2 separate regions of the Homo sapiens genome follow, and region 1 is linked to region 2. Evidence: fine-mapped expression QTL. A gene starts in region 2. The other region holds a variant in brackets. All regions are shown on one strand. Distances are between the middles of the regions.

Evidence for each region. PIP is the estimated chance that this variant, and not a neighbour inherited with it, causes the effect. A credible set is the group of variants that fine-mapping cannot tell apart.
Region 1: its variant is the best candidate, but not a certain one, in a credible set for the expression of TSNAXIP1 in cerebral cortex (GTEx, PIP 0.61).

What each region holds. Positions count from the first base shown.
Region 1 is chr16:67,875,687-67,880,068 of GRCh38, reverse strand. It overlaps EDC4 (enhancer of mRNA decapping 4), which reads right to left. Exons shown (of 29, transcript NM_014329.5): 2 at 3,968-4,124; 3 at 3,470-3,581; 4 at 3,097-3,196; 5 at 2,663-2,852; 6 at 2,413-2,560; 7 at 2,224-2,328; 8 at 1,794-1,903; 9 at 1,626-1,709; 10 at 1,438-1,533; 11 at 1,230-1,332; 12 at 932-1,112; 13 at 760-832; 14 at 566-657; 15 at 295-482; 2 more. Among named protein-coding and RNA genes, the nearest start is that of EDC4, 4.8 kb to the right of the region's middle. The variant A/G (reference allele first, on the strand shown) is at 2,455.
Region 2 is chr16:67,804,731-67,809,112 of GRCh38, reverse strand. It overlaps TSNAXIP1 (translin associated factor X interacting protein 1), which reads right to left and starts at 2,224. Exons shown (of 16, transcript NM_001288990.3): 1 at 1,917-2,224. The coding sequence starts at 1,963. It overlaps RANBP10 (RAN binding protein 10), which reads left to right and starts at 2,553. Exons shown (of 14, transcript NM_020850.3): 1 at 2,553-2,811; 2 at 3,574-3,685. The coding sequence starts at 2,577. RefSeq lists silencers at 1,995-2,114, 2,615-2,834 and enhancers at 2,255-2,484, 2,190-2,809, 2,810-3,430.

The sequences.
Region 1 (4,382 bases), 71 kb before region 2:
GGTGGCCTGGTGGGGGAAGGCTGAGGTGTCAGCAGCCAGAGCTTGGCATCATCTGGTACCAGCCCCTGCCATCCTCCATCTCTGACCCTTGCCTCACCTGGTCAAGGAGGGGTCCACAGCTGAGGTGCTGCTCATGGCAGACACAGCTGTAAGGGAGCTGCTGCTACTGCTGCTGCTGCTGCTGCTACCGCTGCTGCTGCTGCTGGGAGAGGCAGTGATCTGGGGAGATGCAGGAAATAAGACCTGTGGCCTGTGGCTGAGGCATTCCCAGGTCCCCCTACCCTGGGAGAGTACCTGCTGCAAGGAGGCGCTAGGTGTCATGAAGGCGTCAGGTGTCATCAACTTGGGCTTGGTCTCACTGCTCAGACTGAGGAAGTCGGCAGGTGCAGGCAGCTCCACGATTCGTCGGAGGTCAGGCTGGGAGCCGTGAGCGGCTGACCCCAGGCCCTCAGAGCCCAGTTCGGGCCGAGACTCTCCAAATGCTGCAGGGCAAGTTGCCACTTGAGTTAGATCTCAGACCCTGGTCAGTCCAACTTACCCTACCTCCCTCTCACGCCCTACTCACTGAAGTCCTCGTGGGCAGTGTGGGTGGGCAGTGGGGCCACCACATCAGGGTTCAGCTGTGGCTGGAAGCGGATCTGCACATCTTGCAGTGCCCTGCAGGAAAAGAAGGGGGAGAATAAAGTGCTCCAAGGGCAAGGGTCAGTAGAGTGGAGACAGACACAGACAGGACACTGGCGGGCCTCCCCACTCACTCACTTAGTATGCACACAAAAGAGCTTGATGAGCACACCGGCCGCAGACTCCATGGCACCGGCTCCATGGGTACCATCTGAAAGGACAGTGTGGATGATGAAGCCCCTGGCCCTCTCTGTGCCTCCACAACCCCCTAGATATATGGACACATAGCTCTGACCCTGAGGCAGCTCACCAGCACCCAGGCTGTCATTTTCCTCTTCGGCAGGCAGCACCTCAGTGTGCCGTAGCCGGCAGCGACTCACAACCTGGATACCAAAGCTCAGCACAGGGTGGGTGAGCAGGAACTCCGAGATGGAGCTGAAGCAGGCGTGGCCCTCCTCCTGGTTTTGCAGCAGCTCCATCACATAGAGGACCTGCACAGGCAGAACGTTCCTAGCTGAGCTCAGAGGCTAAGGGCTGTGATGCGCCACCTGCCCCCCGGCCTTCCTCTATAATCCCAACTCTGCCCAGGGTACCCCATGGCAGCCTACCTTCCGTTGCACATCGCTGAGAATCAGGTATTCTGCTGAGAGGTCCAAGCAAACCTTGAGGCTAGGGGGCACACTCACTGAGCTGAAGATATCTGGGGAGAAGCTAGAGAGCCACAAAGCAGAGTGAATGAGCCTGAGAACTGAAGGAAGCTACATTCCCAACCCTGCCGCCCCTGCCCAGTCCCCCAGCCTTCCAGCCACTGCTTACCGAATAGTCTGCAGGCAGGTCCAGGATACTGTACACCACATCTTTAACTCTCGGTTCTGGTCAGCACCAGTAATAAGGAACCTCCAGAAAGGGACACTGCAAGGCAACAAGGCAGTGAGTGACTGGCTGGGGCCCCTGCTGGGAGCCATGGTCCAGCCCACCACCCACTAGGCTGCCCACTCACTCACTCAGGGTCTTGTTTCTTATGGTTGTCACAGAACAGGAGGCAGGAGAGGGGCCGCCCATCATGAGGTTTCCACTCGTGCAGACACCTGCAGGTAGGCAGATGAGGGGCCTGAGTGAGTGGTCGGGTGGGCTACCTCGGGAGGATCCTGGTCCCTGAGGCCCTGCCTTACCTTGGCTCATCTTGCCCCTCAATGTAGATCTGCCAGAACTTGACATAGCCATCGTGGCTCGCAGTAGCCAGCACAGTCCCATCAGGAGAGAGGGCTCCTTCACTGAGGCACTAGAAAGAACCCAAAAAGCTTTGCTGACTAGAGGTGAGAACAAGCCCCTCCCAAGTGAGGATGGCAATGAGCTGGGCTGACTCACGGTGGGACTGGCATGCTTGTGTGACTGACTAAATGAACAGGGTTCCTAGAGAAGGCCAGACCTGCAGGGTGCTGCTAGATAAGGAGAAAGCTGCACAGGTGAGGGCCAATTTGAGCTCAGAGTCCCCACGGGCAGAATGCTAGTAAAGCTGCCCGGGCAGCTGTGGATATAGGGAACAGAAGATGGATATGAGGAAGTGGGGAGGGCAGGGGAGGCAGGCAGTCACAGGCTTACCGTGCTATGACCTTTTACCACAATGAAGCCCTGCTTGATCTGGCTAACATCCACAGGCCAGGTACTGTGGCTGGAGCGGAGCATGTCCAGGTCCCACACCTCAGCCTGGAAGGCACAGGGAGGTGAGTGTGCAGCCCAACCCCACACTATGGCTTCTCTGGCGCCTCTTCGCCATGTCAGCCCCCTCACCCGGTCTTCATGCAGCAGGGCCACTGTTGGGCTGCTCTCCTC[A/G]CAGCAGTCTTCGCTCTCCTCAGGGATGAAGGGGCACCAGATGATCCTGCGAAAGTGGTTCAGTGGCGTGCCCTCTGGCTGCCGAATATGGACCAAGATCTCTTCTCTGAGCAGGGTGTTAAGGGCTAGATAGATGAATGAAGAGGCGTGACACCCCAGCTCCGCCCACCCTTCTTCAGTCCCACCACCCACAGGAAGGAATGGATACTGAATTTTGCCATTAACCAGAGCCAAGCGCCACACGAACAGGTTGCCTGCCTCATCCAGGCAGGCCAGCTGTGGAGAGTTGAGGTGCGCGAAAGCCAGATCAGCCACACTGCCTGTGAAGCCCTTGAGCAAGGTCCGCTCCGAAGTGCTGACGCTGATCACCCGCACCATGGCAGAGCCATTGTTGGCAGCTGGAATCAGGAGAGCAGTGGACCATGAATACGTATCCAGGCTCAGGCAGTAGCAGAGAAGCGCTGCCCCACCTGTCTCCCTGCCACCACCAGAGTCTCAAGCTTGGTTTTCCCACCCAGCTCCCCAAGAGGCAGCATGGACAAACCTTCCATTGTACCCCTAAGGCCTGAGTGGCCTGATGTTGGAACTGGCTCTGTGGGACATCCAGCAGAACATTCCTTCCTCCTCACTGTCTTTACTCACCCCGAATGGCATAGGCCAAGAAGGAGTTAGACACAGCAATCAGGTTGCCATAGTAGTACTTCTGTTCCCAGTCATACTTGGCGACAGGCTGAATTTTCACCTGAGAACCCAGGGTGAGAAAAGTCATGGAACTTCCCCAGAGCCTAGGTGGCCCCCAACATCCCTGGGGATGGGAGAGGACACAGATGCAAGTCCAGCTACCCACTGTTACCTCCTGGAGCCAGACTCCCACAGAGGCTTGGCACCCAGCCCTGGCTTCCTGAAACTGGGAAAGTGTCAAGGTGGTCCCCATAGGAACTGGCAGCATGAGGGAGACTGGAAAGGCTGGGTGTGCCCCCGTACATTATATATGCCACAGCATCCCAGTACCTACCTTGTTGCTTCCCCGGGCCTTGCTTGAAATGCTAGAGTCACTGCTAGCCACAATCTCCACCTCCTTGGCCAAAATCCCAATGCAGGTGGAGCTATCATCTCCTGAGAGACAGCTGTGGGGAAGAGTGCAAAAACTTTGCCTCTTGTTCACCCAAAGGCTCAGCGGGCAGGGTTGGGAGGAAGCGAGGACATAGCCAGACTGGGGAAGGTATCTAGTCCAATGTCAGCTTCGCCTGGTCCACTGGCCCCAGACCCACAGCTCTGCTTGCTCATCTCCTTCCTTGGGAATGAGCCTACTTTCATTCTAAACCAGGTATCCAGGCCAAACCCCTGAGCTTGTCCTTGCCTCTCATCCTAGTGCAAGCTCAAGCTCCACCCCAGGTCATCTAGAGAGGAAGCAGCAGAGGCTGCTGGCCCCGCTCACTCCCCATCTCATGCCTTCAGCTAGCAGACACCCCAAATACACCATCACCACTATTGTCGTCTCCTAGGTACTCACATGACCTGCTTCTCTTGCAGGTTAATGGGTGGCATGGTCCGAAGACCAGTCTTGTTTGCTGAGGTACTATCACCTGAGCAGAGCGGGTCTGGGACCAGAAGTCCATTGAGGTCCCCATTGTAGGCACTGGATGGCCGTGGGCTCTCTGCACTGGGGCCTGGGGACAAAGAGGGTCATTCTGATAAGGTTGCTCGACCTGCCCACAAGCCTCTCCCCTTTCAGAGTTTCCTTCAAGAACTATGAGGTGCTCTAGGAACACTCAACTGAGCAAAGCATGTCCATGAGGAGGAGGGCCCTGTGTTCATCTCTCGTTCCATAAACACTGATGTAGGCAGGACCAAGGATGAGCATGAGGCTCTTCTACCTGGGGGAGGGGTACAAGCCATCAAGGACCCTTTGAGGGCAGTGAATACTC
Region 2 (4,382 bases):
ACACCCTCTCGAACTTCTGGGTTCAAGTAATCCTCCTGCCTCAGCCTCCTGAGTAGCTGAAACTTTTATTATTATTATTATTATTATTTGTAGGGACAGGGTCTTACTATGTTTCCCAGGCTGGTCTTGAATTCCTTACCTCAAGTGATCCTCCCACCTTGGCCTCCCAAAGTATTGGGATTACAGGCATGAGCCATCATGACCAGCCCTGTGCTTCTTTCTTAAAATGAATGGGGATTCTCTTTCTGGGTCTGCTTCATATCCTTTTCATAGAGAATGGCAGTTTACTAAATTAATCCTGTGCTGGGTAACAATTCTCTTTCTCTCTCTCTCTTTTCTTTTTCCTTTTTTTTCTTTTTTCTTTTTTTGAGACGGAGTCTCACTCTGTCGCCCAGGCTAGAGTGCAGTGGCGTGATCTTGGCTCACTGCAACCTCTGCCCTCTGCCTCCCTGGTTCAAGCGATTCTCCTGCCTCAGCCTCCCAAGTAGCTGGGAATACAGGTGCCTGCCACCATGCCCGGCTAAATTTTTTTTTTTTTTGAGACGTAGTCTCGCTCTGTTGCCCAGGCTGGAGTGCAGTGGCAGGATCTCGGCTCACTGCAAGCTCTGCCTCCCAGGTTCATGCCATTCTCCTGCCTCAGCCTCCCGAGTAGCTGGGACTACAGGTGCCCACCCCCATGCCTGGCTAATTTTTTGTATTTTGTAGAGACCGGGTTTCACCACGTTAGCCAGGATGGTCTCGATCTCCTGACCTAGTGATCCCCCCGCCTCGGCCTCCCAAAGTGCTGGGATTATAGGCGTGAGCCACCGTGCCTGGCCTCTTAGGGGCTTTTGTAGGCTTTTCTCTGTCAAGGCAGCAGACCCTGAAGAGTTTAGGTGGGATTGGGTGGTGTTTTTTTTTTTTTCCCCCACTGGGAATGAGTAGAAGGGGGGACACTACATTCATTCAACACTTACTGGGTGCCTATTACATACAAGAGCTGTGTCAAGAGCTTCACATATTCTGCCTAAATGTTCCCAACAATGTTTGTGGGGTGGGCTGTATCATTCCCATGTTTGAGATATATAAGCTGAGGCCTGGAACTTGAAGGGCCCTGTCTGAAGTCCCAAAACTAGAAAACGATTTAGCCAAAATTTTTGTTTTAATCCGTATGTATGGCTCTCCAGGCTGATGGAGCTGGTCATATTTTGCAGTACCCAGAGGCTATACACCTGAGTACAGGCAGAAGCTACCCAGAGGATGATCTCTCCAGGCTTCTAAAGTATTTCTTTACTTGTTCAATGGTAATATTACTACTTTATACAGTTGTTGTGAGGATTAAATATGGTACGTAGGCCGGGTGTGGGGGTTCACGCTTGTAATCCCAGTTTGAGAGGTCGAAGTGGGAGGGTCGCTTGAGTCTAGGAGTTCGAAACCAGCCTGGGCAACGTGGTGAAACCTCGTCTCTACAAAAAACAAACGAACAAAGAAACACCCAAAAATTAGCCAAGCGTAGTGGCGCATGCCTGTAGTCCCAGCTACTCGGGAGGCTGAGGTAGAAGGATCGCTTGAGCCCGGGAGGTCGAGGCTGCAGTGAGCCGTAGTAGTGCCACTGCACTCCAGCCTGGGCGACAGAACGAGATCTTGTCTCAAAAATAAAATATTTAAAAATGTGGTATATAAAGCATTTGGCATATAGTACATTCAATACAAGCTGGTTGTTACTAGTAATGATAAAGTGCGCCTACCGTTTTGCTAGCACGTAACGTCTTCACTGGGCTAAATCAGCCCGATTCTAACCATTGACTCTGTGGTGCTGGAGCCCTAGATCAATGGTCAGAGGCCAGCAGGAGGTGCAGAGGTCCGGATCAAGTGCCATTTCCCTCTCTAGAAGTACTCAAACCCTCATCTCTGCCCTCATCCCTGCCAGCGCCTACCTCGACGCGGACGAGAAGCTGTGGTACCGCGACTGCTGGCAGGCCATGACCCACGGGCAGGCGGGCAATCAGCACCCGCGGCCTGGGAAGCTGTGGTAGCGTACAGCCGGTCGCCATGGCGACCAGGCCCCAGAGGCCCCCCCGCGGCGGGGGCGGAGTCAGGGATGCGCCACGCCCCCGAGCCTAGCGCCCGCGGGCTGGGAGTAGGACAAAGTAGCAAAGGTGGACTGGGACCCGGCAGCGGGTGCCCTGAGAGTCAACCACTACAGCCGATTTGACCCCAGGTACCAGAACTGAGGCAGGGGGATGAACAGAGGCCATGGGGAGGGAAGTGTGCTGAGAGGCCGGAGCCGCTTTGCCGGCGGGAATGGTAGTTTTCGGTGTCCCGACGTCTCGATGGGACAGGCTTATGGCTGAGGACGGTTATACTACATCTCCCAGAATTCTCTACCAGCCCGAGTTGCTCCGCCTCTCGAGAGCTCTGCATTGTGGGGTATGGAGTTCGAAATGTGGTAAGGCGTGTCAGTGTCCAAAGAGGGGTGCCGGACTCGGACTCGGTTTCCCTGCGGCCCAGGGAGGCTCACGGGCCATTGGCTGAGCGGGGCGGATCTGGTCCCGCTCCTCCCCGCCCCCAGTGACACAATAGTAGCTCCCTCCAAGATGGCGGCAGCGACGGCAGACCCGGGAGCTGGGAACCCGCAGCCTGGGGACTCCTCCGGCGGGGGCGCTGGGGGCGGGCTGCCGTCCCCTGGGGAGCAGGAGCTGAGCCGGCGCTTGCAGCGCCTGTATCCCGCGGTCAACCAGCAAGAGACTCCGCTGCCGCGCTCCTGGAGCCCCAAGGACAAATACAACTACATTGGTCTCTCCCAGGGCAACCTCCGCGTCCACTACAAAGGTATCGGCCCGTCAGGCTGGGGGGAATTAAGGCTAGAGCGTCCGTGGGGTGGCTCTGCTGCCAGGCCCCCGCCCTATCACCTCCCTTTCCCTGCCTAGGTGCTCCAAGTTAGGGCTTGGCCCTTTCAGGATGTCCAGGGTGGTGAGGCTGAACAGGCCGAGGGCTGACTGCCTGTTCTCTGTCCTGAGACACCTGCCGTCAAGAGAACCGCAACAGGTGTCCAAACCCAGTGCTGGGCCGGACCTTCCACTCCAGGGCCTCCGTGCTTATCCTAGGCTGGCGCCAACGGCAGCGGGACCTTTCGCCACTGCTTAGAAGAAAGGGGTGGTCACATACCTACCATTAGCGTGAGACTCATGGGCTTCCCCACCTGCCAGGCATCCTAGACTGAGCCTGGGGTTCCGTGCTAGAGTTTGGGGGGTGTCTTCCAGGTCGGCCTCATCCTTCTTCCCCTGGCCTCCCAGGTGGGCTGCCTGGATTCTAGAGAGGCTGCCAGCAGCACTTGAGTATCTCTCACATTGCCTCTACCCTTGTTTTGTTTGTATGGGCAGTGTCTCAGGCAGGACTGCTGTTCTCAGGAGGAGGTGAGGCAAAGGTGGAAGGTTTAAGTGTTTATTCAGTTGTCTAATGATTCCTCGGCCTGTGTAAGTGCGTCCTCTGGCCACAGAGGAGTGGAGTTGTCATGGAGGAGTTGCAGAGAAAAATGAGGCTTCCATTTGCATTTCCTTCTGCTGAAATTTCTTACTTGCCCTCTCCTGTTAGGTCATGGCAAAAATCACAAAGATGCGGCCTCAGTGCGTGCCACCCACCCCATACCTGCTGCCTGTGGCATTTATTACTTTGAAGTGAAGATTGTCAGCAAAGGAAGAGATGGGTAAGCCCTTCATGACCACCCTCTTTCCCTGATCATGGAGCTGATCCCTGTGGTCAGAGTTCAGGTCCTTTGGCTGGCACTTGTTGCTGATGTGAGCTGGGGAGCCGCATGGGTCTGGGCTGCCATTATTTCCTGACTGTGGGCATGGTCTGGTCTAAGCAGCAGATCTTGATGGCCAGTGGGTGTGTTGGGGGTAAAGCAGGGATTATTTTTAGTGATGATGTAATTTGATACCTAGAAGGTTAGGCAAACAAGTAACAAGTTTACTTTAAAAATTTAGTGTCCAGAATGGAGTTTCCCTCATGAGCATGTGGTGTTTTTGTGACTTCCTTCCTTTCACATTCTTGCTGTATTCATGAGGTTCTTTTTTATGGCATTTAGTCATGTGGAGGCCCTGGTAGCCTTCAAAGAGATAGTAGAGTCTTTGCAGCATTCATGAAAGCTTCTGTGGCCACCGGCCTGTCATCTCAGGGTAAACAGCATACACATGATCAGAATCAGGTGACCTTGCTGCTCATAAACTTGTTTTTCAGTCCAAGGACTTGAACACTACTAGTTGGATCAACTTTAGGAAGGTCCTCATTAAAGTCAGCATTAGGAGCCAGGCACGGTGGCTCACGCCTGTAATCCCAGCAATTTGGGAGGCTAAGATGGGCAGATCACCTGAGGTCAGGAGTTGGAGACTAGCCTGGCAAAC